Homo sapiens: one gene and its partners. The protein of the gene in region 3 interacts with the protein of the main gene of each other region in a biochemical or structural test. Each region holds a gene or a part of one and is shown on either strand. Other genes may lie near its edges. The genes, in order: ADAP1, NSRP1, RANBP9, S100A7 and AXL.

Region 1 (6,124 bases), on a different chromosome or scaffold from region 3:
GTGAGAAGGAGGGCCCCCCACTGCACCCCGAGCGGTGATGTTCCCAGCTGGGCTCATGTTGCCTGCTACCCCTGTAAGTGGCTCGTGCTGTCCCATCCGACAGATGAGGAGACCGAGGCCCGGAGACTGGCGTGCCTTCTGGGCGCCCCTCGCACAGCCACGTACCGAGCATTTGCGGCATCTTTCACCAAGGCTTCGGGAGAAGACGGAGCCCGGGGGGAGTCAGGTCTCTCTCTTCTGGGACTTCAGTGTGGTTCTTCCCCACCTGTTCTCCAGGGGTGTGTGTAACTAAATACTTTGCAGGCCAGACACGGCGTCACACATCTGTAATCCCAACACTTTAGGAGGCCAAGACAGGAGGATCGCTTGAGCCCAGGAGTTCAAGCCCAAGCTGGGCAACATAGAGAGACTTCATCTCTACCAAAAATTTTAAAAATTAGCTGGGTATGCTGGTGCATGCCTGCGGTCCCAGCTACTTGGAAGGCTGAGGCAGGAGGATCGCTTGAGCCCAGGCGTTGGAGGCTGCAGTGAGCTGTGAGCTGTGATTGCACCACTGCACTCCACCTTGGGCAACAGGGCAAGACCCTGTCTCAAAACAAAACAATACAATACAAGACAAAAAAAACCCCGCAAAACCAAACAACGGCTGATCCTGTAACCGCATTCTTTCTCCCAAAAGCCGCCCTACTCAGCACAGGCAAAACTCCTGGTACCCGAGACAGGGTCACTTGGGCAAATGTTTGACTGACTGAGGGGTGAGGAGAAAGCCTGTGGTCTCTCTCGAAGACAGGGGCTCTGCTGAAGTAGGGCTGTTAGTGGCCCCTTCATTCATGACTCCCGTGGAGACCTGCTCCGGACTGAGCTCTGTGCCAGATCCGGGGGTGCTGGGTCTGGGGTCCTCAAGAAGCCCACGTTAATGGGGAGACAGGCTTCATTAATCAGGGAGCCTAACAGCTGTGACAGAAAACCCCCAAATCCCAGAGGCCGGGCATGACCCCCAAATCCCAGATGTGCAGCGTGACCCCCAAATCCCAGAGGCCGGGCATGACCCCCAAATCCCAGAGGTCGGGCATGACCCCCAAATCCCAGAGGCCGGGCATGACCCCCAAATCCCAGAGGCCGGGCATGACCCCCAAATCCCAGAGGTCGGGCGTGACCCCCAAATCCCAGAGGCCGGGCGTGACCCCCAAATCCCAGAGGTCGGGCGTGACCCCCAAATCCCAGAGGCCGGGCGTGACCCCCAAATCCCAGAGGTCGGGCATGACCTCCAAATCCCAGAGGCCGGGCATGACCTCCAAATCCCAGAGGCCGGGCATGACCCCCAAATCCCAAAGGTCGGGCGTGACCCCCAAATCCCAGAGGCCGGGCGTGACCCCCAAATCCCAGAGGTCGGGCGTGACCCCCAAATCCCAGAGGCCCGGCGTGACCCCCAAATCCCAGATGTGCAGCGTGACCCCCAAATCCCAGAGGCCAGGCATGACCCCCAAATCCCAGAGGCCAGGCATGACCCCCAAATCCCAGAGGTCGGGCGTGACCCCCAAATCCCAGAGGCCGGGCGTGACCCCCAAATCCCAGAGGTCGGGCGTGACCCCCAAATCCCAGAGGTCGGGCGTGACCCCCAAATCCCAGAGGCCGGGCGTGACCCCCAAATCCCAGAGGTCGGGCGTGACCCCCAAATCCGAGGCCCGGCGTGACCCCCAAATCCCAGAGGCCGGGCATGACCCCCAAATCCGAGGTTCAGCCTGCTGGTTCTCACGCACCATCCCCGGCCGGGGGCTCACTTGGGTGCCTCTCCTCCTGGCAGTGACTCAGAGCCCAGGCCCAGCCCCAGCCCCACTGGGCCTCCGCCGCCTGGCATGGGAGTCCCCCACCAGCCAGGGGTGGGCCCCGATCAGCGTTGGGAGGGGGGCTATCCTCCGCCAGGCCTGAAGGGTGGGGTCCTCTCCACTCATGATTCCCCAAACAGGCTTGGGTCCACAGCCGCACCTGCTTGTGGGGAAGCGCCTCGATTTCCACCAGCCTCACCCAGGAGAGCCTCCACTTAAAAATAAAAGCAGTTCAGAGATGACTCATCTCCCCCAGAGAGACTGTTCTCTCTAGGGTGCCTTTCAGCCATTCCACTCCCTTGACTTATTGTGAAGGGTCGTTGGGAGCCAGAAGAAAACAGGAGAGTCACACAGCAGCCCTCTTAGCCATCGCCCCAGGGCGGGGCTGGACGCTCCCCACATTTTGCCGTTTCAGAATGAGACATTTCACACGTGCAGCAGCAGAAAGACTGCGCTGTGGCACCCACACCCTGGGCAGTGGCTCACGCCTGTCATCCCAGCACTTTGGGAGGCCGAGCAGGTGGATTACTTGAGGTCAAGAGTTCGAGGCCAGCCTGGCCAACATGATGAAACCCCATCTCCACTAAAAATACAAAAGTTAGCCGGGCATGGTGGTGCGTGCCTCGCTACTCGGGAGGCTAAGGCAGGAGAATCGCTTGAACCCGGGAGGCAGAGGTTGCAGCGAGCCGAGATCGTGCCATCATACTCCAGCCTGGGCAACAGACTATGTCTCAAAAAAAATTCTGCTCCCTCAGCCTCCCAAAGCGCTGGGATTACGGGCCTGAGCCACTGTGTCCAGCTTTGTTGGACCTTTTAAGGCAAACCAGACATCGAGACGTGGAATCCCTAGACAGGCCACATGCAGGGTGAAGCCACAGCGCCGCTGTCACACCTGCAAAGTTAGTGGCCGCCGGGCGCTGTCACCCCACGCAGGGTGCGTCGTCATCCGCGGCTACCATCCGTCCTTCGGGGGTGTGCAGCGCGTTGGGTGTGAGGCACCCCCTGCACTCAGATCCTATCTGAATTTCCCAATCTTGGCCCCATCACCCAGGAGGATTCGGGCCCACAGACTTCTCCCAGGGCAGCGGACACGAGGAAAGCAGGTGGACCCATCCTCACGAGTGCCGGGTGCCCTCCAGCCCGGGGCATGGGCTCCTGTGGGGCCGGCCTCTGCTGGAGGTTCCCGGCACCCGCGGGGCAGAGCAGGTGCATGCAGATCGGCTTCCTCAGATGCCGTGGGGTGTCTGGGGAGAGCCCCGTCTGCACCGGGCAGAGGGCGGGGGGGGAGCTGGGGTTAGGTGCCTGTGGGGCGCACGGAGCCTGGTGTACCCGGGGGTCTCCGCTGAAGCCCCCCCCACTGCATGGCCGGGGGCTCCTGACTCGAGGCTCCGTCCACCCTCCCTCCGGGGTCCCTGGGCTGAGCCTCCGTGAACGTCCGGCTTTCCCTTGCAGATCCCGACTGGGCCTCCTACACTCTGGGCGTCTTCATCTGCCTGAGCTGCTCGGGAATCCACCGGAATATCCCCCAGGTCAGCAAGGTGAAGTCCGTCCGCCTGGACGCCTGGGAGGAGGCCCAAGTGGAGGTACGGAGGGGGAGGGGCGGGGGGACCCGCGCAGTCCCCGGGTGGCCTCAGCCCGGGCCTCTGGAGCCAGAGATGCCGGGCGGCCTGGCTGTGGCCCCTGGAGCCTTGGGCTACTCTGGGGGCCTGGCTGGCTGGACCCGAGGACCCCGCCCCCTCTCCAGCGGCTCCGCCTGTGTGGCTGCTCCACCCACCCCGTGCCGGGTCCAACCTCTCTGTGAGCAGCTCCAGGTGTGTGTGGTGGGCCAGGGAGCGAAGGCGGGTCGCCGATTCCCGTGCCCTGGGAGCTCCGGAGTGCTCCCCTCAAATCCCCACACCTGGAGCACTGGGCTCAGGGTAAAAGAGACCCTGTCTCTAAGGAAACAGAATGCAGCGTCCCAGGCCGCGCGGCACGACCCAGAGTCAGGGTCGCATTTACACGGCAGTCCACGTGCACCCCGGCCCGCTGCCGTGTAGGGCACCATTACCTGTCCCCTGGGCGGCCTCTGAGGTGACACAGCCACTGCCCACCTCTCACCCATGCATCTGATGAGGCTTCACGGAGCACTTGGCATGGCCAGGCAGGGACACCAGCCACAGATGCTTCGTGGGGCCCTAGAGACGCCCCTATGGGGAGGGAGACGGGTGTGAGCCAACCAGGAAGCCCTGGCGTGCAGGGAGGGGCCACGCATGCTGGAGGCGGCAGGAAGGGCCCCGTAGGGAGACCCCGAGGGAGGTGGAGAAGGAACAAGACCCCGGCTGGGGGCTGCAGGTCGGATGGAGCGTGGGGCCTGAAGACCCGGTGGGAGGGTCACCCCAGCCCCACTCGTGGGACTTGGGGTCTGGAAGCCATTGATCTTCCTGACTGCTGTGAGTGGGACCGAAGGGCCGCATGGAGGTGAGAGTGGTGGTCTGGGGGCTGCTGTGGGGATGGGGAGGGTCGTAGAGGCTGGTGGCCTCCTGTACATGTCTCTCCCCTCTCCAGCACCATTGACCCTGGGCCCCCCCTCTCCAACACCACTGACTCTGGCACCCCCTCTCCAGGACCACTGATCCCAGCCCCTGGTTCTCCAGCACCACTGACCCCGGCTCCCGGCTCTCCAGCACCACTGACCCCAGTCCCCGGCTCTCCAGCACCACTGACCCCGGTCCCCGGCTCTGCACCACCACTGACCCCGGCCCCCGGCTCTCCAGCACCACTGACCCCGGCCCCCGGCTCTCCAGCACCACTGACCCCGGTCCCCGGCTCTGCACCACCACTGACCCCGGCCCCCGGCTCTCCAGCACCACTGACCCCGGCTCCCGGCTCTCCAGCACCACTGACCCCAGTCCCCGGCTCTCCAGCACCACTGACCCCGGTCCCCGGCTCTGCACCACCACTGACCCCGGCCCCCGGCTCTCCAGCACCACTGACCCCGGCCCCCGGCTCTCCAGCACCACTGACCCCGGTCCCCGGCTCTGCACCACCACTGACCCCGGCCCCCGGCTCTCCAGCACCACTGACCCCGGTCCCCGGCTCTCCAGCACCACTGACCCCGGTCCCCGGCTCTGCACCACCACTGACCCCGGTCCCCGGCTCTGCACCACCACTGACCCCGGCCCCCGGCTCTCCAGCACCACTGACCCCGGTCCCCGGCTCTCCAGCACCACTGACCCCGGTCCCCGGCTCTGCACCACCACTGACCCCGGCCCCCGGCTCTCCAGCACCACTGACCCCGGCCCCCGGCTCTCCAGCACCACTGACCCCGGCCCCCGGCTCTCCAGCACCACTGACCCCGGTCCCCGGCTCTCCAGCACCACTGACCCCGGTCCCCGGCTCTGCACCACCACTGACCCCGGCCCCCGGCTCTCCAGCACCACTGACCCCGGCCCCCGGCCCCCGGCTCTCCAGCACCACTGACCCCGGCCCCCGGCTCTCCAGCACCACTGACCCCTGCCCCTGGTTGGGAGTAGCTCATTTGCTTCTAACAGGCAGCCTTGGTGCATGGGTCACACCTGGAGGCTTGTTAGAAATCACAGCTGGGATCCCAGTGCCTCGACCAGGTGTGGGGGTGGTGCCTGTAATCCCAGCCACTCAGGAGGCTGAGGCAGGAGGATTGTTTGAGCCCAGGAATTCTTTTTTTTTTTTGAGACGGAGTCTGGCTTCGTCGCCCAGGCTGGAGTGCAGTAGCATGATCTCGGCTCACTGCAAGCTCCACCTCCCGGGCTCAAGCAATTCTCCTGCCTCAGCCTCCCGAGTGGCTGGGATTGCAGGTGCACGCCACCACGCCCGGCTAATTTTCGTATTTTTAGTAGAGAAGGGTTTCACCATGTTGGCAAGGCTGGTCTTGAACTCCTGACCGCAGGTGATCCACCCACCTCAGCCTCCCGAAGTGCTGGGATGACAGGCGTGAGCCACCATGCCTGGCTGAGCCAAGGAATTCGAGGCTGCAGTGAGTTGTGATTGCACCTTTGTGCTCCAGCCTGGGAGACAGAAAAAGACCCAAGGACAGCAGAGTCCCTGACCCACCCAGGGCGACCCCAAATCAGCTTCTGCACTTAATGCCGTGATCCCCCACACCCTGAGTTGAGGGCGTCCCTGCGAATCCCCTCAGGACCCCGGCCCACCTTGGGCTCACCGCCTTCGACCCACCTTCACTGACCTGGGTGGGGGACACTGGGATGTGATATCCGTCCCTTCGCCCTTCGACCCACCTTCACTGACCCAGGGGGGGACACTGGGATGTGACATCCATCCCT
Region 2 (6,124 bases), on a different chromosome or scaffold from region 3:
TTCTTTTCCAGTACGAGCGTCCCCTATCTAAAATACATGGGACCAGAAGTGTTTTGTATTTCAGATTTTTAAAATACTTACTGGTTCAGCACCCCAAATCTGAAGATCTGATATCTGATGCTCCAATGAGCATTTCATTTGAGCTTCACATTAGTGCTCAAAAAAGTTTTAGATTTTAGAACATTTAGGATTTTTGATTTTCAGATTTGGGATGCTCAACCTGTTTTCTGGTTGGCAATGGTGCCTTACTTATAGTTAAAAGTAAAAAGATAATAATACAAATTAAACTAACATTTTCAGGGTTTTTTCCCTAAACTTCAGGAAATAAATGAATTTGCATTGTAAATCCTCAGAATAGATTATAAGGTATCAGAGAAAATAGAATGGTACAGGAAAAGATGAGTAAACATGAATTTTTAGTCCTAAATTCACTACTGTCATTCAACCTTTACAGATTTCAATTTGCTTCATGTGAACATGTGAGAGAGAGAGAGAGAGAGAGAGAGAGAGAGAGAGAGAGGGAGTGTGTGTGTGTGTGTGTGTGTGTGTGTGTGTGTGTGTGAGAAATGGGGAAAGACTGGTCTAGATAATATTTCAGGTACCTTCCAACACTAAAATGGTATGATTCCCAGCTTACAAAAAGCAAACTATTTTAATATTCACCACTCAATATAGTGTATCAAGCTCTCGGTTTATGTTTAAGGCTTAGGGACAGCAGCAACTATTCGTGGCAATAATCAAAAACTATGTACCAAAAAGCATGTTTAGGTCCTGAGGATAGTGAAAAAGCAAGAACAGTCTCAGTCTTAGGCCAGAGACTGAAACAAAATCTTGTTTTTCAGATAAACAGTCTGAAAGGGAAGACAATTAAAGAAATAATCACAATATATGGCCAGGCGCGGTGGCTCATGCCTGTAATCCCAGCACTTTGGGAGGCTGAGGCAGGCAGATCACTTGAGGCCAGGAGTTTTGAGACCAGCCTGGCCAACATGGTGAAACCCCGTCTCTACTGAAAATACAAAGATGAGCCGGGAGTGTTGGAGCACAGCTGTAATCCCAGCTACTTGAAAGGCTGAGACATGAGAATCACTTGCACCTGGGAGGCAGATGTTGCAGTGAGCCAAAATTGTGCCACTGCACTCCAGCCTGGGCAACAGAACCAGGCTCTGTCTCAAAAAAAAAAAAAAAAAAAAGACAATTACAATATAAATGTGATAAGCAATATAATAAAGGAATAAACAAAGCACTGTGGGAGCCCAGGGCAGAGAAGGCAACTAAATGTATATGAGGAATCAAGAATCCCTTTCCAAAAGAGATATGACATTAGACCAGAATCAAAGAGAATAAAAATGTAAAAGAATGCAAGAGGAAGATAGGAAGTAGTCATCACATGGGCAAAACTAAAGATTACATACAGCTAAGAAAAAAAAATACTTAAGAAAAATATGTTTCCTTAATAGTACAGGCTTTAATCATCAGGGAAATGTAAATCAGAACCACTAAGAGATAACACCTCACACCTGTTAGAATGGCTATTCTAAAAAAGTCAAAAAATAATAAAGGTTAGCATGGGTGCCAGAAAAGGGAATTCTTATATACTGCTGGTGCAGATGTAGGCTGGTACAGTCAATATGGAAAACAGTATGGAGGTTTATAAACAAATTAAAAATAGAACTACCATACAGCCTAGCAATCCCTCTTGGCATATAGCCAAAGGAAATGAAATCACCACCTGGTAAAGGTAGCTTCACTCCCATGTTCATTGCAGCATTATTTGCAATAGCCAGGTATGGAAACAATCTACCTGTTCATTGACAAATGAATGGATAAAGAAACTGTGGTAAATATGTATGATGGAGTATTATTCAGCCTTTAAAAAGGAGATCTTGCCATTTGCCACAATATGAATGGGCCTGGAGGACATTATGCTACATGGTAAGCCAGACACAAAAAGAAAAATAGTACCTGACATCATTTGTAAGTGGAATCTCTCACAGAGATAAAGAACTTAAAAACAATGGTTACTAGGGGTGGGGTGAGAGGAAATGGGAAGAGGTAGGTATGTAACAAGATGAACAAGTCTAGAGATCTAATGTACCACATGAGGACAATAGGTAATAAAATTGTACTATATATGGTATTCATGCTAAATGAGTAAATTGTAGCTGCTCTTGCCACAGAAACAAAAAAAGTATGTAAGATAATGGACATGTTAATTTGCTTTACTGTAGTAAACTTTTTACCATCTATATCCCATAATTGTTATATACCTTAATATGCACAATTAATTTTTTTCAAGTATCAGGATTTGCAAATATACTGACACTGAATTGTATAAAAGCATGAATTTTATGCTATGTGAATTACATCTTTTTAAAAAAGCCAAAATAAAGCTACTGATGCATTTTTAATTCTTTCATTTGTGGGGGCAAGGGCTACATGGGTTATCTCTGTCCCTCTCAATTTTGCTGTCAGTCTAAAACTGCTGTTTAAAAAAAAACGAAGTCTTAAATATACATAAAAACATATGTGTAAGTTTTAAATATATATATGTACACAAAATCCTCAGCTCTAGAATTATAGTAGTCCAGCCTATTAACACTTGCTATCTTCAGTTGTATTGTACCAGCAATTGGTGCTTTTTTTTTTTCATGGTAATAACCAGAACAAAATAGTTCTCTATGACCACAGACAAATCAATTTAATACACAAAGGTCATATAATACATATTTAAAAAATTAAATAAGTATGCAAAGAACTAAAGACATTTTAGGTGATGGTAAACTGACTAACTGGGGGAAAGATGTTGATAACAAAAACAGTAATAGCTGCTAACATTTATTGAGCTAGGTGCTATGCTAAGTATACTAGTTGTGTATTACATGTATTACTGATTTAATCCAAATTTCTGTTACATGTAATATGAAACTTTCATTCACTAGAATATCAATTTTAAATACCAAAACTGAAAGTAATAGTTAATATTTCCAATGTATTTTCATGTCTGTATTTCTGATTAGTATGAATGAAAAATATTTTTCTTGACCACTGAGTTAATGATGTCTTCAGGACTGACTGAGAAGATTACATCTCCAAATGCTGGATGTTTTCCTCTTTTACTTGCTTTTATTTTTTCCTATCTCCTCCTTCAGTCTGTCACCTTTAATCTGTCAGAGTTTACCTGCTGCCTTTCAAACTGGATGCTTCAATCTAAACTATGTAACTTGGTTGTTATGGAAGATTCTCAGAGAAATAAAATAACTTTTAAAAAGAAAACTTGGGAAAGAAAAACACAAGGCTATACCTTTCCAGACTTTTATAAAATATAGAATAAGCAGACTGAGAAAGGCCTTTCCAATGTAGACTATATCTATTTTGAGACACCTCAAAAGATTTTGTTTCTATGTTCATAGCTGTTTAGAAGAATGAAGTATGACCGTTGAAAAAACAAGCTGTTACTACTTACACAGGAAGGTAACATAATGGAAGGAGTGCAATAGTTTTACATATTCTATTCACAAACTTATATCCCTAGAATTCAACAGCATCAGTGGATAACTCTGAACCTAACCTGAAAAAGTCAGGAAAAACTGATGATCTTTTGAAGGTCATTTGATTCTCAATTTTCTAAATAAAGGTACTTTAACAATTACCACTAAGGATGACGATTAAATGCCAAAAACCTGTTTAAACAAATACAAAAAGCTTAAAAGAGTAGCAGTAAAACTTTTACTTTTTTCTGTAATAGTAACCCTATATAAAAATATATAAAATGATCTTCTATATAACATAAAAAACTCATCTAGATTCAGATCAGACTGAAAAATAACTACTACAATTAAAAACAATTTCCTCATAAAAGAGCAGATACTTATTTTATTTTATTTATTATTATTATTATTACTATTATTATTATTATTATACTTTAAGTTTTAGGGTACATGTGCACAACGTGATTGTTTTCAGATAACCATAATAATTATACTATGTAATTTTAAGATTGAGAACAAAAATTGGCACATGTATTGTGGCCTATTCTGTGTGTCTTTTTTGAATCTATAATTCTGCTAAGAACTGTGCAGAATATAAAAGGATGTTGCTTGTGTTTAATTTTTATGATTCTTTAAATATATTTTAAATGGAAATCCAGAAAGGAAATATATTAATCTAAAAATAGTAACAACAACAGTAGTTACAATAATCCTAACAACTTCAGAAATAATGGATAAGTAAGCTAAATGACATATAGAAGTCACCTTTAATTGTTAAGGCTACAGATTACCTGAGAGAATTTAAGGACAAACAGCTGGTGAATGGCAAAGCAAGATTCCAATTCAGGTACTCTTATTCCAAACTTTAATAACTTTCCTTTAAACACCAGTACTGGATATACACTGAAATGTCTCAAGACAACACAGAATTAAAAGGCATGGAAAGGTACAAATAGCCTATAGCATAAATCTGATTTAAACTTTATAATATTGAACGGTGTCCTATGTTGCTATTATTGGAAATTCACCAACTGAGATGATTCCTCTGAAAACGTAAAGCTGAGGTATGATTCCATCTACTAGAGTAACATAAGTATTATTATAACTGTACATGTACTGTTGACCATTAGAGTGGAAAGTCACATAAAATGAAAACACAGAATGTTATTAACATTAAAGGAAAAACGAGTCTATTTAGTATTTGATATTTTAAGTACTGTTTCTACATCTACTCCATAGTATCAATGAAAAACAGATTCCTTCAGATACATTGTAGTCATATCATGAATGGGAAAATATTTTTCTTTTTAACAAATATCTTAAATACATATATTTATGTGTGAGAAAAAAAACTACTACAATTAAAAGCAGATCAGTAAGATCTTATTTTTTTTTTTAAGACAGAGTCTCACTCTGTTGCCCAGACTGGAGTGCAGTGGTGCGATCTCGGCTCACTGCAACCTCCGCCTCCCGGGTTCAAGAGATTCTCCTGCCTCAGCCTCCTGAGTAGCTGGGAATACAGGCGCACACCACCATGCCCAGCTAATTTTTGTATTTTTAGTAGAGACAAGGTTTCATCATGTTGGTCAGGCTGGTCTCGAACTCCTGACCTCATGATCCACCTGCCTTGGCCTCCCAAAGTGCTGGGATTACAGATGTGAGCCACCGTGCCCGGCCAGATCTTATGTTTTTAAAGGTCAAGTCTTTTTACGTTTTTAGTGGTATCCTTAAAATACTAATACAGTATACATACACAACAGAATAGTATTTGGCCATAAAAAGAATGAAATCGTATCATTTACAGCAACATGGAAGGAACTGGAGGTCATTACCTTAAGTAAAATAAGCCACACACAAAAAGATAAATATCGTATGTTCTCACTTCCATGTGGGAGCTAAAATAAAAACTTTGATCACATGGAGGTAGAGTGAAAAGGTAGATAACAGACTGGGAAGGGTAAGTGAGGGAAATGGGGAGGATAAAGAGAAGCTGGTTAAAGGGTACAAACATACAGTAAGATAGAAGGAATATATTCAGTGTTTGACAGAAGAGTAAGGTGACTATCCTTTTTGTTTGTTTGAGATGGAGTCTTGCTCTGCTGCCCAGGTTGGAGTGCAGTGGTGTGATTTCAGCTCACTGAAACCTCTGCCTCCCGGGTTCAAGCGATTCTCCTGCCTCAGCCTCCCGAGTAGCTGGGATTACAAGTGTGCGCCACCATGCGTGGCTAATTTTTTTTGTATTTTTAGTAGAGATGGGGTTCTGCCATGATGGCTAGGCTGGTCTCGAACTCCTGGCCTCAAGTGATCTGCCTACCTCGGCCTCCCAAAGTGCTAGGATTATAGGCATGAGCCACTGCACCTGGCCAGGGTGACTACCCTTAACAAAAACGTATTGTACTTGGGTAACAGACACTAATTGCTGACTGACTTGATCACTAAGCATTGCATTCATATAACAAAATCTCACAGGTATCCCATAAACTTGTATAAAATTTTTTCAAATACTAACACAAATTTTAAGAGAACTTTTAATTTAGTCTGGTTTTCATAAAAAGAAAGGATACTCAAGAAGGTAAATATCACAAAAGCAGATCCTCTTGCCATAAATCAGGGAAGGGTTGATCTTATTGAAC
Region 3 (6,124 bases):
ACGAAGATGGAACAAAATGCAGCTTAGTATTTTGAAGAAAATTGGCTTATGTTTTGCACTTGCAGTTAAAAACAACAACCTTAGGCTTGTGCTTGCCCCTTTCCTCCCTCACCTACCTCTCCTAGGTTAAAACAAAGCTGGAAGCAAATCAGTTGTATATAAAATTATGAATTGCTATGGGAACTATTGAAATGTAGCCCAATTTAATAGCATGTATCAAGTTTACTTGTGTGGAAGAAAAAAAAATCAACCTAACGTATCAGTCTTGTCTGGAAACAAATCCAGGGTTTTAGGCCCCAAACCTAAAGCAGAAGCTTTTACATTCACGGCAGCCTCACTTTGATTGGCTGTAAAGGGGTCTACTCAGATCCTAGTGACATGTATGTAGAGGAGATAAACAACCTTGTGGTTAAATTCTTAACTTATACGGGACTGAAATTTGAGAAGAAGCTTGATAAGTAAGTTACTATTTAATCAGAAAGGCGAATGGCAATAGAAATCTACCAAATGATTTGGCTGCAAAGAATCACGCACAAAAATAGGCCTTGTTGAACATTCTTTTTATTCTCGCCATACATCCAAAGAAGTACTTCCAAGTGTTATCCTCCTTAATCTAAACGTCTGAACGTTTCATTCACAATATCAAATCTTTGTTTTTTCTCAAGTTAGGACCTTTTGTTAATTTCCTTGTGAAGTATTTCTACTTTTATGTTTTAATTTGTGTGAACGGTGCTATGTTATGAGGTGTTTACTTCTGATCTGGCTGCCAGAAAGCTATTGTTAGATGTGACAGAATTTTATAATTTTAAATTTATGGTTGACAGTAAATAATTTGCTCATAAAGTCAGAGCCAGTGTAGATGAACAAAGAATTCTAGATTTCCTGAGTTCTGCAGTTGTTTGTGGTTGTAGATATTTTACAAGACTGAGCCTCAGTTTCTTCCTCTGAGTGGTGTGTAAGTTGAGCTGGACGATTGGTAAGGAAATTTCCAGCTCTGAATTTCCGTGATGTCTAAGATTCGTGATTACTGTTTATTTAGTACTGTAAGGTGTCTTGATTAGTTTTAGTCTTTTACATAAAATTGATGATTAGGTCAGAGAAAAATACACGTTTATATGAAATTAGTTGGAGTTTGGAATATTTCTGACACTGCTGTCTCAGTTGTTTTTATTCTTGGCCTCTTTATTACTTTCTGTTGTGTAATACTAAGGTTCACTTTCTGGGAACATAACTGTTTTATAAACATAAATCATTATTTCTGGAAGAACAGATTTTGTTGTTATCCTTTTATTTTTCCTCTCTTCTATCTTTCCTTTGTCTCTCTCTTACCCCTTGTCAGAAAGTCTTTTTCCCTTTCTACTGCCTCTTCCTCTTGTCTTGTTACTGTAGACTGTGTGTGTGTGTGTGTGTGTGTGTGTGAGTTTTCCGTTGTTACTGTTGATTTTCTGCGTGTTTTGTGAGAGGACCACGCCGATTGTGGTGGGCAACTGTGTCCCAGTAGCAGTAGCAGTAGCAAAGGAGAAGTATCATAGAGAGTAGATAATACTTTAAAATCACAGAATAAGAAGAGTGAATTTTTATTTAACCTATCATTGTGCTGCATTGGTTTTACCTAAGTATCATGAGACACTTTTAACAGTAAAAACTACTATTCATATATTCACGTATTACAGAATTTCAAAAGAATGATTTTAATTATTTTCCAGAGTGACGAGAATTTTCCTTATCTTTGAAATAGAAGTATTTTGCTTTCTTTTGCTCCAAAGGTATTCTGGTTTTTTGTTGTTGTTCTGGTGTTTTTGTGTATGTGTGTGTGATAGGATTTCAACTTTGTTGCCTTGATGGAGTGCAGTGGTGCGATCATGGCTCACTGCAGTCTAGACCTCCTAGGCTCAAGGGATCCCCCTGCCTCCATCTCCCAAGTAGCTGGGACCACAGGCTCCTGTCACTATGCTGGGCTAAGTTGTAATTTTTTTTTTTGTGGAGATGGGGTCTTACTGTGTTGCCTAGGCTAGTGTTGAATGTTTGGGCTCCAGTGATCCTCCCACCTTGGCATCCCAAAGTACTGGAATTACAAGCCTGAGCCACTGTGTCCAGCCTGTATTCTGTTTTTAAGATGTTCTTCTAAATTGAAATTACTGCTTTTGGAAGCAGTATTGTTCCTGAAATGATTTGAAGAGATTAATGTTAGATAATACTAGACATGCAGATAAGGTTGATTGGATTGCAGAGGAACAACAGGGTATGTATAGTATATGTGAAATTTTTTTAAAGGCCTTTTGCTTAGCAGTCACACAACAACTATTGAAAAACCCAGGGATAGCCCCTCTTATTTTTGAAATTGTTGTCAGTATTGAATAAGTACAAATGTGACAAGTTTAGACTTAGTTATAATGATAACGGGAAAATAATTTTAATAAATATGACAATGGACTTAGTTTAAATGTTTCAACAACAGATTGCATTTTTATATTTTTCTAGTTATTACCACTATTTGGATATTTTATAGAGTGCTTTATATATACACACACTAGTGGATCTGGACAAGATCCTGGAATTTTCATTTTAAATTTTAGAGAGTGGTAGAACCTGGAGGTTAGATCTTCCCAGTCATGAGTAAATCAGGATTGAAAATTTTCACTAACTCCAGATTTAGTGTTCTTTTCACAATCCCATAGTATTGCCTCTTTAAGTTCATATGAGACTTAATTATCTCAAGTAGATAAAATCCTGTGATCACATTTAGAACTTTTAAAGAATAGTTGAGATTGAAAATACTTACTCTGGGGGAAAAAGGTAACTGGAACACAGTGCTTCAGAAAAGTCCAGACACCTTGATTTTACTAATTTAGAACAGTTTAGAAGAAATCCAAGGTAAGTCAAAGTTGGGAATTATAGGAAGCAATGAAATAGTCAATTTCAGTGGGTGTGGTGGCTTACGCCTGTAATCCCAGCACTTTGGGAGGCCAAAGTAGAAGGATCGCTTGAGCCCAAGAGTTCTAGACCAGCCTGGGCAACATAGTGGGACCCCGTCTCTACCCCTAAAAATTAACCGGGCTAAGTGGCACACACTTGAAATCCCAGCCACTTAGGAGGCTGAGGGAGGAGGATTGGTTGAGCCCAGGAGGTTGAGGCTTCAGTGAGCTATGATGGCCTGGGTGACAGAGTGAGACCCTATCTTAAAAAAAAAATAAGTAAATAAATAGTGAATTGCATTTTTTTTTTTTTTTTTTGAGACAGAGTCTTGCTCTATCGTCCAGGCTGGAGTGCGGTGGTACAATCTCTACTCATTGCAGCCTCTCCTGGGTTCATGCAGTTCTTCTGCCTCAGCCTCCTGAGTAGCTGAGTAGCTGGGATTACAGGCGCTTAGCACCACGTCCGGCTAATTCTTGTATTTCTAGTAGAGACGGGGTTTCACCATGTTGGCCAGGCTGGTCTTGAACTCCTGACCTCAGATGATCTGCCCGCCTCGGCCTCCCAAAATGCCGGGATTACAGGCATGAGCCACTGCGCCTGGCCTGAATTGTCCTTTTTTTTTTTTTTTAAGATGGAGTCTCGCTCTGCTGTTGTCAGGCTGGAGTACAGTGGCGCCATCTTGGCTCACTGCAACCTCCGCCTCCCGGGTTCAAGCAATTCTTCTGCCTCAGCCTCCTGAATAGCTGAGAATACAGGCATGCGCCACCACGCCTGGCTAATTTTTGTATTTTTAGTAGAGGGGAGGTTTCAACATGTTGGCCAGGATGGTCTCGATCTCTTGACCTCGTGATCTGCCCGCCTCGCCCTCCCAAAGTGCTGGGATTACAGGCGTGAGCCACAGTGCCCAGCCAGAATTTCACTTTTTAATTGAAATGTTATGAACAATAACCAAATAGGTTGAACTTTTTTGTTGTTTTTTGAGACCGAGTCTTGCTCTGTTGCCCAGGCTGGAGTGCAGTGGCGCCATCTCGGCTCACTGCAAGCTCCGCCTCCCGCGTTCACGCCATTTTCCTGCCTCAGCCTTCCAAGTAGCTGGGACTACAGGTGCCCGCCGCGACGCCCGGCTAATTTTTTGTATTTTTAGTAGAGATAGGGTTTCACCGTGTTAGCCAAGGTGGTCTCTTATCTGCTGACCTAGTGATCCACTCGCCTCGGCCTCCCAAAGTGCTGGGATTACAGGAGTGATAGGTTGAACTTTTGTTATACTTACTCTGTCTTTCCCACCTGTACCCCCAGTCATTAGCGCTTGAACACTTCCTAAATATAATTGCTTATCTAATTTCTTGCACTTTTTAAGTTTGAACAGATATTTCAGCATGCTTGCTTACAAGTGCAAATGTCTGTTAAGCATTACGGGGGTGATATAAAAATGTTTCTTTTTTTTTTTTTTTTTTGAGACGGAGTCTTGCTCTGTCGCCCAGGCCCAGGCTGCAGGGCAGTGGCGCGATCTCCGCTCACTGCAAGCTCCGCCTCCTGGGTTCAGACCATTCTCCTGCTTCAGCCTCCCCAGTAGCTGGGACTACATGCGCCTGCCACCACGCCTGGCTAATTTCTTTTGTATTTTTAATAGAGAGGGGGTTTCACCGAGTTAGTCAGGATGGTCTTGATCTCCTGACCTTGTGATCTGCGCGCCTCGTCCTCCCAAAGTGCTGGGATTACAGGCGTGAGCCACCGCGCCCGGCCTAAAAATGTTCCTTAAAATGAAGGAATTGAAGAATTACTTGCCAAGATTTTGGGAAATTAGGTTTAAAAATGCCAGTTGGTAACTGCAAGAATCAAGTAAATCTAATAATCATGCAGAACAGTAGACAATAATAATGTATATTCTTTTTTTTTTTTTTTTTTTTTTTTTTTTTGAGACAGAATCTTGCTCTGTCGCCCAGGCCGAAGTGCAGTGGTGGCACTTTGTCAGCTCACTGCAACCTCCATCTCCTGGATTCAAGTGACTTTCCAGCCTCAGCCTCCCAAGTAGCCGGGATTACAAGCGCCTGCCACCACGCCTGGCTAATTTTTGTATATTTAGTAGCGATGGGGTTTTGCCATGTTGGCCAGGCTGGTCTGGAACTCCTGACCTCAAGTGATCCGCCTGCCTTGGCTTCTCAAAGTGCTGGGATTATAGGCGTGAACCACTGCACCCAGCCTAATGATATATATTCTGCTAGACTAGACAATTTATATGTGTTTTTCACTGTTCATTTCTTCATTTATTTAATGAGCTTTTAGTGAATGTTTACTTTGTGCTAGGTTCTGGACACTCAGAGGTGGAGAAGATACTGTCATTGAATTCAGAGAGCTCAGAGGACATAAAATAGAGTAGTAAGGGAAATATTATAGAGAGTACTGTGGAAAATAGGAGGAGCGTATAACCCAGGCTGACATTGGAAAGAATGAAGGAAGTGTAGGTATCAGGGATAGCTTCTTGGAGGAGTCGAGGCTAGTGGTCAGTCTTAAAAGATGAGTAGGATATAGGAGAAAGGGAGGGGCTAGGTGTTGCAAATGAAGGAAAAGCAAAAACATAGAGAATTACTTTATGTGTCTGGTTTTACAAGCAATTTTGGGTTGGCATTTAGAGTATGTGACAAGGAGCATCTGGGAAAAGATCAATTAGGAGGCTTTTTTTTTTTTCTCTTTTGAGGCAGGGTCTGACTCCATTGTCCAGGCTAGAATGCAGTGGTGCGATCTAGGCTCACTGCAACCTCTGCCTCCTGGGCTCAAGTGATCCTCCCACCTCAGCATCCTGAATAGCTGCAACTACAGGCACGTGCCACCATTCCCAGCTAATTTTTTGTATTTTTTTGTAGAGAAGGGGGTTTTGCCATGTTGCCCAGGCTGGTCTCGAATTCCTGAGCTCAAGCCATCTGCCTGCCTTAGCCTCCCAAAGTGCTAGGATTACAGGCAGGAGCCACTGTACCTGGCCCAGTTAGGAGCCCTATGGAATATTTTGTTGAGTTTAGATCTTATTCTGTAGGAGATGGAGAATCATCAAAGGATTTTAAATGGGAAGTGACTGGCTCATATCTTCATTTTTGTCAGATTACGCAGCTGATTGGAAGATAGATTCAAGAGGTTACAAGAGTGGGAATAGTAAATTCATTTAGAAGACTATTGCAGTAGACCATGTTAGAATTGACCTCAGCTGGGTCAGTGG
Region 4 (6,797 bases), on a different chromosome or scaffold from region 3:
CCATTAATTTCTTTCAGTGTTTGCTTTATATAATTCAAAATTGTGTTCTTATGTGTATAAGGATAGGACTATTATTGCTGGGCCTGGTGGCTCACACCTGTAATCCCAGCACTTTGGGAGGCCAAGGAGGGTGGATTACCTGAGGTCAGGACTTCGAGACCATCCTGGCCAACATGATGAAACCCCATCTTTACTAAAAATACAAAAATTAGCTGGATGTGGTGGCGTGCACCTGTAATCCCAGCTACTCTGGAGGCTGAGGCAGGACAATCGTTTGAACCCAAGAGGAGGAGGTTGCAGTGAGCCAAGATGACACCACTACACTCTAACCTGGGTAACAAGAGCGAAATTCTGTCTCAAAAAAAAGAAAAAGAAAAAAAAAGAATAAGACTACCGCATCTTGGTGACTTGCACACTAATCAATAAGAAATATTCTTCTTTTTCATTTAATCCCTTTTCTTAGAATTCTTTGTTGTCTTGTATTAATATTGTTGTCCCTGATTCCTTTTGTATTACTTTTCCTCTGTTCCTTTTTTCTAAACAGTGATGATACATAACTCAAAATGAATCATAGACCTACATGCAAACACAATGTTACAAAACTCCTAGATGGTAGCATAAGAGGAAATTTGATCATCTTGGTTTTGGTGATGACTTTTAGATGGCAACACCAAGGCACAATCCATGAAAGAAAGAATTCATAAGCTGGACTTCTTTAAAATTTAACATTTCTCTTTGTGAAAGATATTGTCAAGAGAATGAAAAGATAAGCCACAGACTGGGAGAAAATGTTTACAAAAGACATATCAGACTTTGTATGTTATCCAAAACATACAAAGAACTCTTAAAACTCAACGATAAGAACACAAACCAAACAATTAGAAAATGGGCCAAAGACCTTAACAGATATCTCATCAAAGAAGATACAGAAGGTGACAAATAAGCATATCAGAAGATGCTCCACATCATATGTCCTCAAGGAAATGCAAATTAAAACAACAATGAGATACCAGTACACACTTATGAGAATGCCCAAAATCTGGAACACTGGACAACAGCAAATGCTGAAGAAGGATGTGGAGCAACAGGAACTCTCATTCATTGATGGCAGGAACACAAAATAGTACAGCCACTTTGGAAGACAGTTTAGTGCTTTCTTAAAAAACTAAACATACTCTTACCATAGGATCCAGAAATCACACTCCTTGGGATTTACCCAAAAGAAGTGAAAACTTATGTCCACACAAAAACCTGCATACACATATATATGAATATATGGCACAATGGTGAAGTCTGGGCTTTTAATGAAGCCATCCTAAATAGCATGCATTGTACCCACTAAGAAATGTCTCATCCTTCACCCACCGCCTCACCTGCTGCCCTTCACAGTCTCCAGTGTCTATGATTCTACTCTCTACCTCCATCTGTATGCATGATGTAGCTCCCACTTACACATGAGGTTGCACAGTATTTGACTTTCTGAGTAATTTCACTTAAGATAATAGCCTCCAGTTCCATCCATGTTGCCGCAAAAAGCGTGATTTCATTCTTTTTTTATAGCTGAGTAGCATTCCACTGTGTGTGTGTGTATGTATCTTTTGCTGTTAAAAGTAATATTGCCATCACATGGGGAACTGGGAGAGGGAGAAACAGGTCCCCCTGGTTACATAGGTACTGACGAGAAGGAAGTTGAAGAAAGATGATGGGTGGAGAAAATAGGTCCCACCTAGGGAGACATCACATCAGCTCTGTGGAGCCCCAGAGTGCTTAAAGGGCTGGCACTAAATGAACCTGGAACTCTCTTGCACCCTAAAAGGAACATTGCAAGGGGGTAGCAGAAAAAGTCCATTTCAGTGATTCATCATCTCCCTTTCCTCACCATGCCCCAGGGATTCCCATGCCTTCCCAACCCTCTTGCCCCTACCTGGGTCAGCCTTTCCACAGCAGGTTAGGGCACATTATAGCCAAGGGCACAACTCCCAACTCCTACACAGGCTGTTTTGCATAGGAGGAGGAAAAACACTGAAGACTTTCTGGGAAGTTAGTGCCATGGGGCAGGAAAGAACTTTTCCCACTCCCTGCCTCCAGGCTCATTCCATGGGGGGGTCACTCCACCACTCAACCTAGATAGTGAGGCCCCTGACCCCAGTCCCCCCACCTAATTCCAGGGCTTCTGTGAGGGGCTGACCAATGGTTAGCAATGAAGTAACCCTGCTTCCCTCCCTGGACTTTGAGTTCCCATAGGGCAGACCCTGATGTGACCCAAGACCTATAGCACAGGGGATAAGAGTAAGGATTTGATTCAGGCTTTTCTGAGTCCATATAATGATTTGTTGTGTTTACTAGCTGAGTAAACTTGGGAACATCTCAACTTCTCCTTTCCTAAAATAGAGATTGAAGCACCTCTTAGGACTATGAGGGTTGAGGAGGATGCAGGAGCAGCAGGTATCTTGATATCTAGACATTAAAATGCTCAGTCAGCGGTGGGGGTCATAGAACAGGCTGTCATAACAAATGTGTGGAAGGATAAGGGGAGGGAACAAACAAGACCATGCTGCCTTCAGGAGTCTGAAACTCCATCCTCTTTGGGTCCAGAGGCCCAGTGCTCTTTTCTCCCATTTTCTGACCTGCTACTACACATGTACCGCTGCCTTACCCTCAAATCAAGGTTGAGCCAGAGAAGACTCCAGGTGAGGTCTCTGGGGTGGGGTGGGACCTGGTGACCTGGGACACTGGCCAGAAATCCTGAGCACAGCCTCCTGGGTGTGTCCCACCCACCTGATGTGGGGCAAGCCTCCAAGAAACAGATGACAGAGGTGGCCCCAGGCCTCCCAGCCCCTGGGAAGAGCCAGGCTGAGCCTTATAAAGGACTGCTCTTTGTCCAAACACACACATCTCACTCATCCTTCTACTCGTGACGCTTCCCAGCTCTGGTAAGTCTCACCTGCCTCTTTGCGTTTTCTAGAAGTGCCCAGTGCCTGGCCTGCCATGCTGCCTGTAGGAAGGGAAAGGGCTGTGGACAAAGACTCAGAAGCCTGGGTCTAGGCCAGCTCTGCCATTAGCTGGGCTGTGTGACCTTCACTTGACCCCAAAAGCCCACGTCTGTATAACCAGGTGGCTGAACCAGACCTGTCCATTGCTCCTTTGGGATCTCCTGAGGCAACTCCTGTGGAAATGTCCCCAGTGGGACCTGAGCACAGGACCCTCCCTGTCCTCTTCCTCCCTGGATTCATCCTCCTGTTGGGGTCCCGGTTGCTAAATCCCCTCCCCAGCTCCAGCTCCACAGAGGGTGGAGGGCTAGGGGTCCCCTGTGAATGCTTTGGAGGCTCTCCAAACCCCCAGGCCTGGGACCCCGACACAGCATAGCCCTGGCCAGATGGCTTGCCCCTACCTGGGTAAGGTATTGAGAAACCAACGCTCCGTCACTCCCTACCACAACCTGCAAATTGTCAGTCACCCTCTGGGCACAGGGCTTGCCCTCTGGCCTTGGCCTCAGATTCAAAAAAGCTCTGGGTGGCTCCTCTTAGTCAGTTGCCGGCATGGAGCTTTCTCCTGCATTGAGAGGTGTTGGGGGTTTATTGTCAGACACCCATATGCATTAGCCAAGGTCCTTTCCTGGTTCTTTGGAAAGTGTGGGAAGTGAGAACTGCACTGTCCTATTTTTCAGGCTTGGGGTGCAGGCCAGCCCAGACTGACTACTGGCTGAAAGATCTGCTTTGGGAAGTCAGACATTTTTATTTAAACAGTCAAGGCTTGGTGATTCAGAGGGTGCAGATAATTCCCAAGAGCAGACATGAAGTGACTCCCACCTCACTCCCACCCCGTCCAGCAGCTTAAGAACCAGAGAGTTATTTCTGTTCCTTGTAACAGAGGCCATTCCTGTTTCTCGTTCCCAAGGGAATACAAGAAGGGCCCCCTGTGCTCGGGACAGGACTGTGTTTCCTGCTAACACTCACGTCCACGCTCACATGTGCACCTGGAGCCTGCACACACCGTGTCATGCAGGGCTTGCACTTGAGTCAAGGTGGGGCCCACGGTGTCTGGTTCCTGAAGCAGCCGAGGAGGGTCAGACACCAGATCACCAAGGCCATTGTCCTGCCCCCATGACTGTCACCCCGACTGTGAAGCTGGAGGAGATGGATTTGGTGCTCTTTTAAGAGTGGGGTCTGCCATGTGCTGGCTGAGGCTGGGGTGTCCCAGCTTAGTTCTTCCATGTGTTGCTGGCGCCCGACTCTCCCTGCTTCTCCCTCTCTGAAGCACTGTCCACAGCTGGACTTCCGCCATCCACCTGCATCTCCTCTTGGCCCTGGCCAGGATGGGCCAGGTCTCAGACTTGGTCCTACCCTCTCATTTTTGAGCAACTTATCCCATCACATTAAAAAAAAATTGAGTTCGTTCTGCTACACCTTATCCGTGTTTTTACTCTGTCCTCAGCCCTCCTTCCAGCACTCCCAAATAGAGACCCTAACTTAAATGAAGGGAAAAAAATGATTGTCTTTATTTCCTGAAGGCTTTTTGAAAGCAAAGATGAGCAACACTCAAGCTGAGAGGTCCATAATAGGCATGATCGACATGTTTCACAAATACACCAGACGTGATGACAAGATTGAGAAGCCAAGCCTGCTGACGATGATGAAGGAGAACTTCCCCAACTTCCTTAGTGCCTGTGTGAGTCGGTGTCTAGCTTCTCAATGTTGGAGGATACATTTTGCTATGTGGCCTTGGACAGATCACCCTCACCCTCTGATTAAAAAATTTCCCATTTGCAAATAGGGCTTTATTACTTGGATCATATGTGAATCTAAGGATGGTAGGCAAAAAAGTATGAAAATGGGAAAGAGTTATACAGATATAAAGGAGGTTATTAGATGGTCAGCAAAGTGTGCAGCTTGAGGGCAGTGCACAGTCCCCTCCCAGCACTCACTGACCCTCTCTCTGTGAGACTGAAACTCACATGCTCAGGTCCTGTTTCCCAAAGGCCCCACATCAACATCCCTGAGATTACTGGGAAAGCACTAGAAGTTCCATTGTTAGTAGAAATCAATAGCCCTCTTTGCAATAAACAAGACTCATTAGCAAATCTGAAAAAAAACTGTGGGCTACTAGGTACCAAAGGGTCTAGATGACCAAGAGTAGGATACCCAGAAGATGAGTTTGGTGGAAAAGGAGAAGAAAGGAGAGGAGGCCAGAGAAAGAAGAGAACAAAAGCATGAGGGCCAATTTTGAGGCCCTGGGGTAGAACTAAGGTAGGCAGTGCCCTTAGAGGCTGGGACGGGAAAGAGTGAGGCTGGGGCAGGGGACTGCTCTCCCCAAGGTCACTTAACAGAGCACCTTGGGACAGGACCTGCCTCCCATCCTGAGGTGTGAGACAAAAAGACTCCCTAGAGAACTCCAGGGATAACACTCACGTCCTCACCCCAACTTCACCCACTCACCCTGTGCTCTCAGCCCCGCCACCATGCCTGTGCAGATCTAGGTACTTGTCTGTATCTCTGCCTCCTCCTCTCCCTCCCAGCCCAAAACTTGTTTGTGATTGAATTTTTCTATTTTGTATGTTTTTCTCTTCACAGGACAAAAAGGGCACAAATTACCTCGCCGATGTCTTTGAGAAAAAGGACAAGAATGAGGATAAGAAGATTGATTTTTCTGAGTTTCTGTCCTTGCTGGGAGACATAGCCACAGACTACCACAAGCAGAGCCATGGAGCAGCGCCCTGTTCCGGGGGCAGCCAGTGACCCAGCCCCACCAATGGGCCTCCAGAGACCCCAGGAACAATAAAATGTCTTCTCCCACCAGACACTTGCCTTATTTTCTTCTTCTCTTTGGTGACCTACGTTGTCAAAACTACCAATTCCAGGTTAACTTTGTTGGAGAATTTCCCCCACCCCCATCCAGTGGGTCACCCAGGAGTAATGTCCCTCCAGCAACGTTCCCCCTATGGCCTCCAGCAGAGCTGAGCTGCCTCTCACACAGGTCCTGGTGTCTGCTTCTGCCCCGCTCCCTAAATGCAGCCACCATGGCAGGTTCCAGGTGGAAGTCAGTGGAAAGCTCCTGCCAGATCACAGCAATGTTCCTCCTTGTCAAGGCATGGACCAGGGTCATTCAGACACATTCAGATACCGCACTGAGAAGGGGCTGGCATCTCTCAGTGTGCTCCTGCCCTCCCGCTCCTGCCCCAGCTGTTCTCCAGGGCTTGGGGAAACAGAAACCACTCACATAGGGATTCCTGGATGGCATCAGGCTCAGGGCCCTTGTGGCTATGAATGGGATGCTCAGTAGTTCCCTGAGGATGAGCTCCCTTGTCCTGTGGCCTGGGCTCCAGGGGCTGTGTCCTCTCTCTGTGCTGTGCACTTGTGTGCATGTGCCTAAGTGGGTGACCCTGTGGAAGTGAGAGGGAGTCATCTTGAAGCTGAGCTGTCCTCGATGGTTTGCTAAATGCCAGGACTGGGTTTCTGGTGATAAATGAATATTCCAGATTTTGAGGAGCTCAAAGTAGTCCAGGAGTCCAAATAAGGAGTCTAGCCGGAATAAGGCAGCACCACGGAAATGTCCTAAGGACTGACACAGAGAGCTCATGCTGACTGTGATGAGAAATTGCAGCACCTCTATCTCGCAGGTAATGGAGTAGTTTGTTATTGGTAGTCTACTCCAGGCCAGGCAGTGTGCTATGGGCTGAGGATGCAGAAACAAGCAGGGCACAGTGCTGTCCTAGCAGAGCACTGGTGGGTCTCTCCATGCAGGCCACAACACAGGGTCAGTGTTCACCTGGTGTCACTTCCAGGCCATGTTCTGTGCAA
Region 5 (5,146 bases), on a different chromosome or scaffold from region 3:
CCTCCCAAGGTGCTGAAATTACAGGCTTGAGCCACTGTGCCTGTTTTTTTTTTTGTTTGTTTTTGAGACGGAGTCTCACTCACTCTGTTGCCCAGGCTGGAGTGCAGTGGCGTGATCTCAGCTCACTGCAACCTCCGCCTACTGGGTTCAACTGATTCTCTTGCTTCAGCCTCCCAGGTAGCTGGGATTTCAGATGTGCACCAACACACCTGGCTAATTTTTGTACTTTTAGTAGAGACAGAGTTTCACCACATTGGCCAGGCTGGTCTCAAACTCCTGACCTCAAGTGATCCACCTGCCTTGGCCTCCCAGAGTGCTGGGATTACAGGCGCCAGCCACCATGCCCAGCCATGTTCTGTTTCTTAATCTGGGTGCTGGTTACATGGGTGTGTGTGTGTGTGTGTGTGAAAATTCAGTGAGCTGCTTACTTATGACTTGTGCACATTTCCATATGTACAGTATACTTCAAGAAAAAAAAATTTCATCAAGGAATCAAACCCAAGGAAGGACCTTAGAATCTAGCAAAGAGCCAAAATTGGGAAGTCCTGAGGAAGCCCTTTGTCCCATCCTCACTTGACAGAGTGAACAAGAAGTAAAGCAGTTCCCTTCTGGACTGGGATGAAGGTTTAGGAGACAGATCCCCACCCGCAGCCAGGACAGTGAGGGGAGGAGGTGCAGATGTGTCTGAGAGCCAGGGCAGGCTTCCTGGTGGAGGTGACTGATGCCCTGACCCTGTTCCTTTCCCCAATCCAAACAGGCTGAATGAGAACATGTCCGTGTGTGTGGCGGACTTCGGGCTCTCCAAGAAGATCTACAATGGGGACTACTACCGCCAGGGACGTATCGCCAAGATGCCAGTCAAGTGGATTGCCATTGAGAGTCTAGCTGACCGTGTCTACACCAGCAAGAGCGATGTGGTAGGTGCACTCCCGCCAAGAGTGGGGAACCATGGGAGGGCATGGCCTGACCATCACACACTATGCCTGGGTGGCTGTGGATGCAAGGGTCACAGGGACATGTGGGCTTCCCTTTGCAGGGGCTTGTCCACATGGGCTGGGCATGTCTTGGGGTATGGTGGGCATCTCTGAATAGTGGTGTGTACATGCCCAGGATAAATACAGGCCCACGTGTGCATGGTAGCAATGTAGACAGTTTAGGTTAGAAGAAGCTGCAGTGATTATGCGTGCATGTGCGCACACTCATAGAATGTGGACAGCCAGGGTGTGCAGAGTGGCACATGAGCTCATGTGTCCATGAAGTGTGTATATGTGTGTGATGGTGAGCATGTGTATGCATCCACAAAAGTTACTTATTCATGTGTATACCCGTGTCAAGTATTTTTTATATATATATATTTTTCTTTTTTTGAGATGGAGTCTCGCACTGTCACCCAGGCTGCAGTGCAATGGCATGATCTCAGCTCACTGCAGACTCTGCCTCCCGGGTTCAAGCAATTCTCCTGCCTCAGTCTCCCGAGTAGCTGGGATTACAGGCGCCCACCACCATGCCTAGCTAATTTTTGTATTTTTAGTAGAGACGGGGTTTCACTATATTGGCCAGGCTGGTCTCAAACTCCTGACCTCAGGCAGTCCGCCCACCTCAGCCTCCCAAAGTGCTGGGATTACAGGCATCAGCCACCGCACCCGGCTAAAGTATTATGTTTCTATGAATACTTGTGATGCTCCCAGAGGATGGTTGTGAACATGTGTACATAAGTGTGGGTGTACCCATGAACCTGGGTATTGGTGCGGGTGATTCTGTGCAGGAGAGACTGTCTAATTCCCTCTGCCCCTCACAGTGGTCCTTCGGGGTGACAATGTGGGAGATTGCCACAAGAGGCCAAACCCCATATCCGGGCGTGGAGAACAGCGAGATTTATGACTATCTGCGCCAGGGAAATCGCCTGAAGCAGCCTGCGGACTGTCTGGATGGACTGTGAGGACCCTTAGGTCTCCCCCAACCCAGAATTCATTCCAAACCCCTGACTACCCCCAGATGGCCCTCACAGGTCCAGGACTCTCTATAACCCAGACAGAATCCCTGAGAATGCTGAGTGACCCACTTGCCCCTCACCAATGCTCTGAGTAGGGCCATCACTAACCAGTGGGGTGCAAATCAGCTAAAGGCACCCTTTCCTCCTTTGTCTGTGTGGGCTGAATCAGCCCCCTGGCTCCCCACCCCCAAGCCAGGTATCCTTGGGTAGTGAATAACAGCACAGTCTTACCTGGCGGCCCTGCCTTTGGGACATGCACTCCCAGAGACTTCTCATTCCAGACTCCTGAGCACACCATGCTTCCCCGACATGCTCCTCAACACCTGAGACTCTCTGCAAAACCCTTCAGTTTGTTTTATTGGCCTTCTCCAGACTCAGGTCTCCTCTGAGATATTTGCAGGATCCTTCAGGGAATGCTTACCAAACTTTGCAATATTGGAGTATGCGGAGAAGGCCGTGACATTTAGCTAGCACTTTGAGGGTAAAGAGAGGATGACTTTGGGTCAGGAGGAGACAGCCTGGGGCGTCAGACTCCTCAGTCCACCTTGGGTACTCCAAGAGCTGAGACGAGTAAAAATAACAGCTAACATTTTCATATAACTGACTAGAAGGCACTGTTTTAGGTGCCTGGCATGTGTCAAATCATTTGGTCCTTACCACAGCCATGTGATGTAGATAGGTATCATTATGATTCCCATTCTGCAGATAAGAAAACCCAGTCCTACAGGGAGGGTAATTTATTTTTATTTATTGACTTGAGTCTCGCTCTGTCGCCCAGGCTGGAGCACAATGGCTCCATCTCGGCTCACTGCAACCTCCCAGGTTCTAGCGATTCTCTTGCCTCAGCCTCCCAAGTAGCTGGGACTACAGGCGTGTGCCACCATGCCCAGCTAATTTTTTTTGTATTTTTAGTAGAGATGGGGTTTCACCACCTTAGCCAGGATGGTCTTGATATCGTGACCTCATGATCCACCCGTCCCAGCCTCCCAAAGTGCTGGGATTATAGGCATGAGCCTCCACGCCCAGTCTGGGAGGGTGATTTATTTGCCAAAGATTGCACAGCTGGTGTGTTTGTTATCTATATCCCCAAATCAAGTAGTTTAAAACAACAAACGTTTATTATCTCACACAATTTCTGAAAGTTGGATACTGGGAACAGCTTAGCAGGGTGATTTTGGTTCAGGATCTCTAATGAAGTTACAAAGATATCACTGGGGGCTGCAGTCATCTGAAGGTTGGGACTGGAGGATTGCTTTCAAGGTGGCTTACTCACATGGCTGTAGCAGGAGGCTTCAGTTCGTTGCCATGTGGACCCCTTTGTGGCACTGCTTGAGCTTACTCACAACATGGCAACCCAGGAGAAAGTGCGAGGAAGCCACATGCCTTTTATGACCTAGTCTCAGAAGTCACACACACCATCACTTCTGCCAAATCAGAAGCAAGTCACTAAGTCCTGCCCATGCTCAAGAGGAGAGGATTTATTCTCCGTCTTTTGCAGGGAGGAGGGTCAAAGAATTTATGGACCTATTTTAAACCAGCACAGCTTGTAAGTGGCATAGCCAGGCTTTGATGCAAGTCTGTTCTGGGGAGCTGGAAGGTCTGTTCTAGCAAACCCTCATCAGAATACTACTCCATATACAGACAGGTTTCCCGAGACCCTTCCCAGCTCCTGAGTCTCCCAGGACCCAACTCAGAAATTCTTGGGAATTCCCAAATCCCCATAGATGGCCTCAAACTGCTGAGGCTCCCTATAACCCTCTAAAATGCCCCCAGTCCCCTGAGTGTCCTAAAATGTCCCCAGGCTTCCAGAATGCACCCCTTCTGAGTCCCTGCTCAATCTCCCACCCCTCATTTTGCTGCCCTAGGTATGCCTTGATGTCGCGGTGCTGGGAGCTAAATCCCCAGGACCGGCCAAGTTTTACAGAGCTGCGGGAAGATTTGGAGAACACACTGAAGGCCTTGCCTCCTGCCCAGGAGCCTGACGAAATCCTCTATGTCAACATGGATGAGGGTGGAGGTTATCCTGAACCCCCTGGAGCTGCAGGAGGAGCTGACCCCCCAACCCAGCCAGACCCTAAGGATTCCTGTAGCTGCCTCACTGCGGCTGAGGTCCATCCTGCTGGACGCTATGTCCTCTGCCCTTCCACAACCCCTAGCCCCGCTCAGCCTGCTGATAGGGGCTCCCCAGCAGCCCCAGGGCAGGAGGATGGTGCCTGAGACAACCCTCCACCTGGTACTCCCTCTCAGGATCCAAGCTAAGCACTGCCACTGGGGAAAACTCCACCTTCCCACTTTCCCACCCCACGCCTTATCCCCACTTGCAGCCCTGTCTTCCTACCTATCCCACCTCCATCCCAGACAGGTCCCTCCCCTTCTCTGTGCAGTAGCATCACCTTGAAAGCAGTAGCATCACCATCTGTAAAAGGAAGGGGTTGGATTGCAATATCTGAAGCCCTCCCAGGTGTTAACATTCCAAGACTCTAGAGTCCAAGGTTTAAAGAGTCTAGATTCAAAGGTTCTAGGTTTCAAAGATGCTGTGAGTCTTTGGTTCTAAGGACCTGAAATTCCAAAGTCTCTAATTCTATTAAAGTGCTAAGGTTCTAAGGCCTACTTTTTTTTTTTTTTTTTTTTTTTTTTTTTTTGCGATAGAGTCTCACTGTGTCACCCAGGCTGGAGTGCAGTGGTGCAATCTCGCCTCACTGCAACCTTCACCTACCGAGTTCAAGTGATTTTCCTGCCTTGGCCTCCCAAGTAGCTGGGATTACAGGTGTGTGCCACCACACCCGGCTAATTTTTATATTTTTAGTAGAGACAGGGTTTCACCATGTTGGCCAGGCTGGTCTAAAACTCCTGACCTCAAGTGATCTGCCCACCTCAGCCTCCCAAAGTGCTGAGATTACAGGCATGAGCCACTGCACTCAACCTTAAGACCTACTGTTCTAAAGCTCTGACATTATGTGGTTTTAGATTTTCTGGTTCTAACATTTTTGATAAAGCCTCAAGGTTTTAGGTTCTAAAGTTCTAAGATTCTGATTTTAGGAGCTAAGGCTCTATGAGTCTAGATGTTTATTCTTCTAGAGTTCAGAGTCCTTAAAATGTAAGATTATAGATTCTAAAGATTCTATAGTTCTAGACATGGAGGTTCTAAGGCCT

What was found.
Region 1: the proteins of RANBP9 (region 3) and ADAP1 form a complex in vitro, tested with the Homo sapiens proteins (one study listed by BioGRID).
Region 2: the proteins of RANBP9 (region 3) and NSRP1 form a complex in vitro, tested with the Homo sapiens proteins (one study listed by BioGRID).
Region 4: the proteins of RANBP9 (region 3) and S100A7 form a complex in vitro, tested with the Homo sapiens proteins (one study listed by BioGRID).
Region 5: the proteins of RANBP9 (region 3) and AXL form a complex in vitro, tested with the Homo sapiens proteins (one study listed by BioGRID).

Annotation. Positions count from the first base shown.
Region 1 is NC_000007.14:932,660-938,783, reverse strand, and holds part of ADAP1 (arf-GAP with dual PH domain-containing protein 1), read left to right. Parts: intron 1-3,278; coding exon 3,279-3,409; intron 3,410-6,124. UniProt on the Homo sapiens protein: GTPase-activating protein for the ADP ribosylation factor family. Binds phosphatidylinositol 3,4,5-trisphosphate (PtdInsP3) and inositol 1,3,4,5-tetrakisphosphate (InsP4). Regulates the incorporation of CD63 and CD9 into multivesicular bodies.
Region 2 is NC_000017.11:30,166,373-30,172,496, reverse strand, and holds part of NSRP1 (nuclear speckle splicing regulatory protein 1), read right to left. Parts: intron 4,395-6,124; coding exon of another isoform or gene 4,283-4,394; intron 3,597-4,282; exon of another isoform or gene 3,572-3,596; intron 1-3,571. UniProt on the Homo sapiens protein: RNA-binding protein that mediates pre-mRNA alternative splicing regulation.
Region 3 is NC_000006.12:13,704,115-13,710,238, reverse strand, and holds part of RANBP9 (ran-binding protein 9), read left to right. Parts: intron 1-6,124. UniProt on the Homo sapiens protein: May act as scaffolding protein, and as adapter protein to couple membrane receptors to intracellular signaling pathways. Acts as a mediator of cell spreading and actin cytoskeleton rearrangement.
Region 4 is NC_000001.11:153,456,744-153,463,540, reverse strand, and holds S100A7 (protein S100-A7), read left to right. Parts: upstream 1-2,889; 5' UTR 2,890-2,933; intron 2,934-4,510; 5' UTR 4,511-4,527; coding exon 4,528-4,668; intron 4,669-5,570; coding exon 5,571-5,735; 3' UTR 5,736-5,797; downstream 5,798-6,797.
Region 5 is NC_000019.10:41,255,695-41,260,840, forward strand, and holds part of AXL (tyrosine-protein kinase receptor UFO isoform 1 precursor), read left to right. Parts: intron 1-757; coding exon 758-917; intron 918-1,798; coding exon 1,799-1,935; intron 1,936-3,858; coding exon 3,859-4,210; 3' UTR 4,211-5,146. UniProt on the Homo sapiens protein: Receptor tyrosine kinase that transduces signals from the extracellular matrix into the cytoplasm by binding growth factor GAS6 and which is thus regulating many physiological processes including cell survival, cell proliferation, migration and differentiation.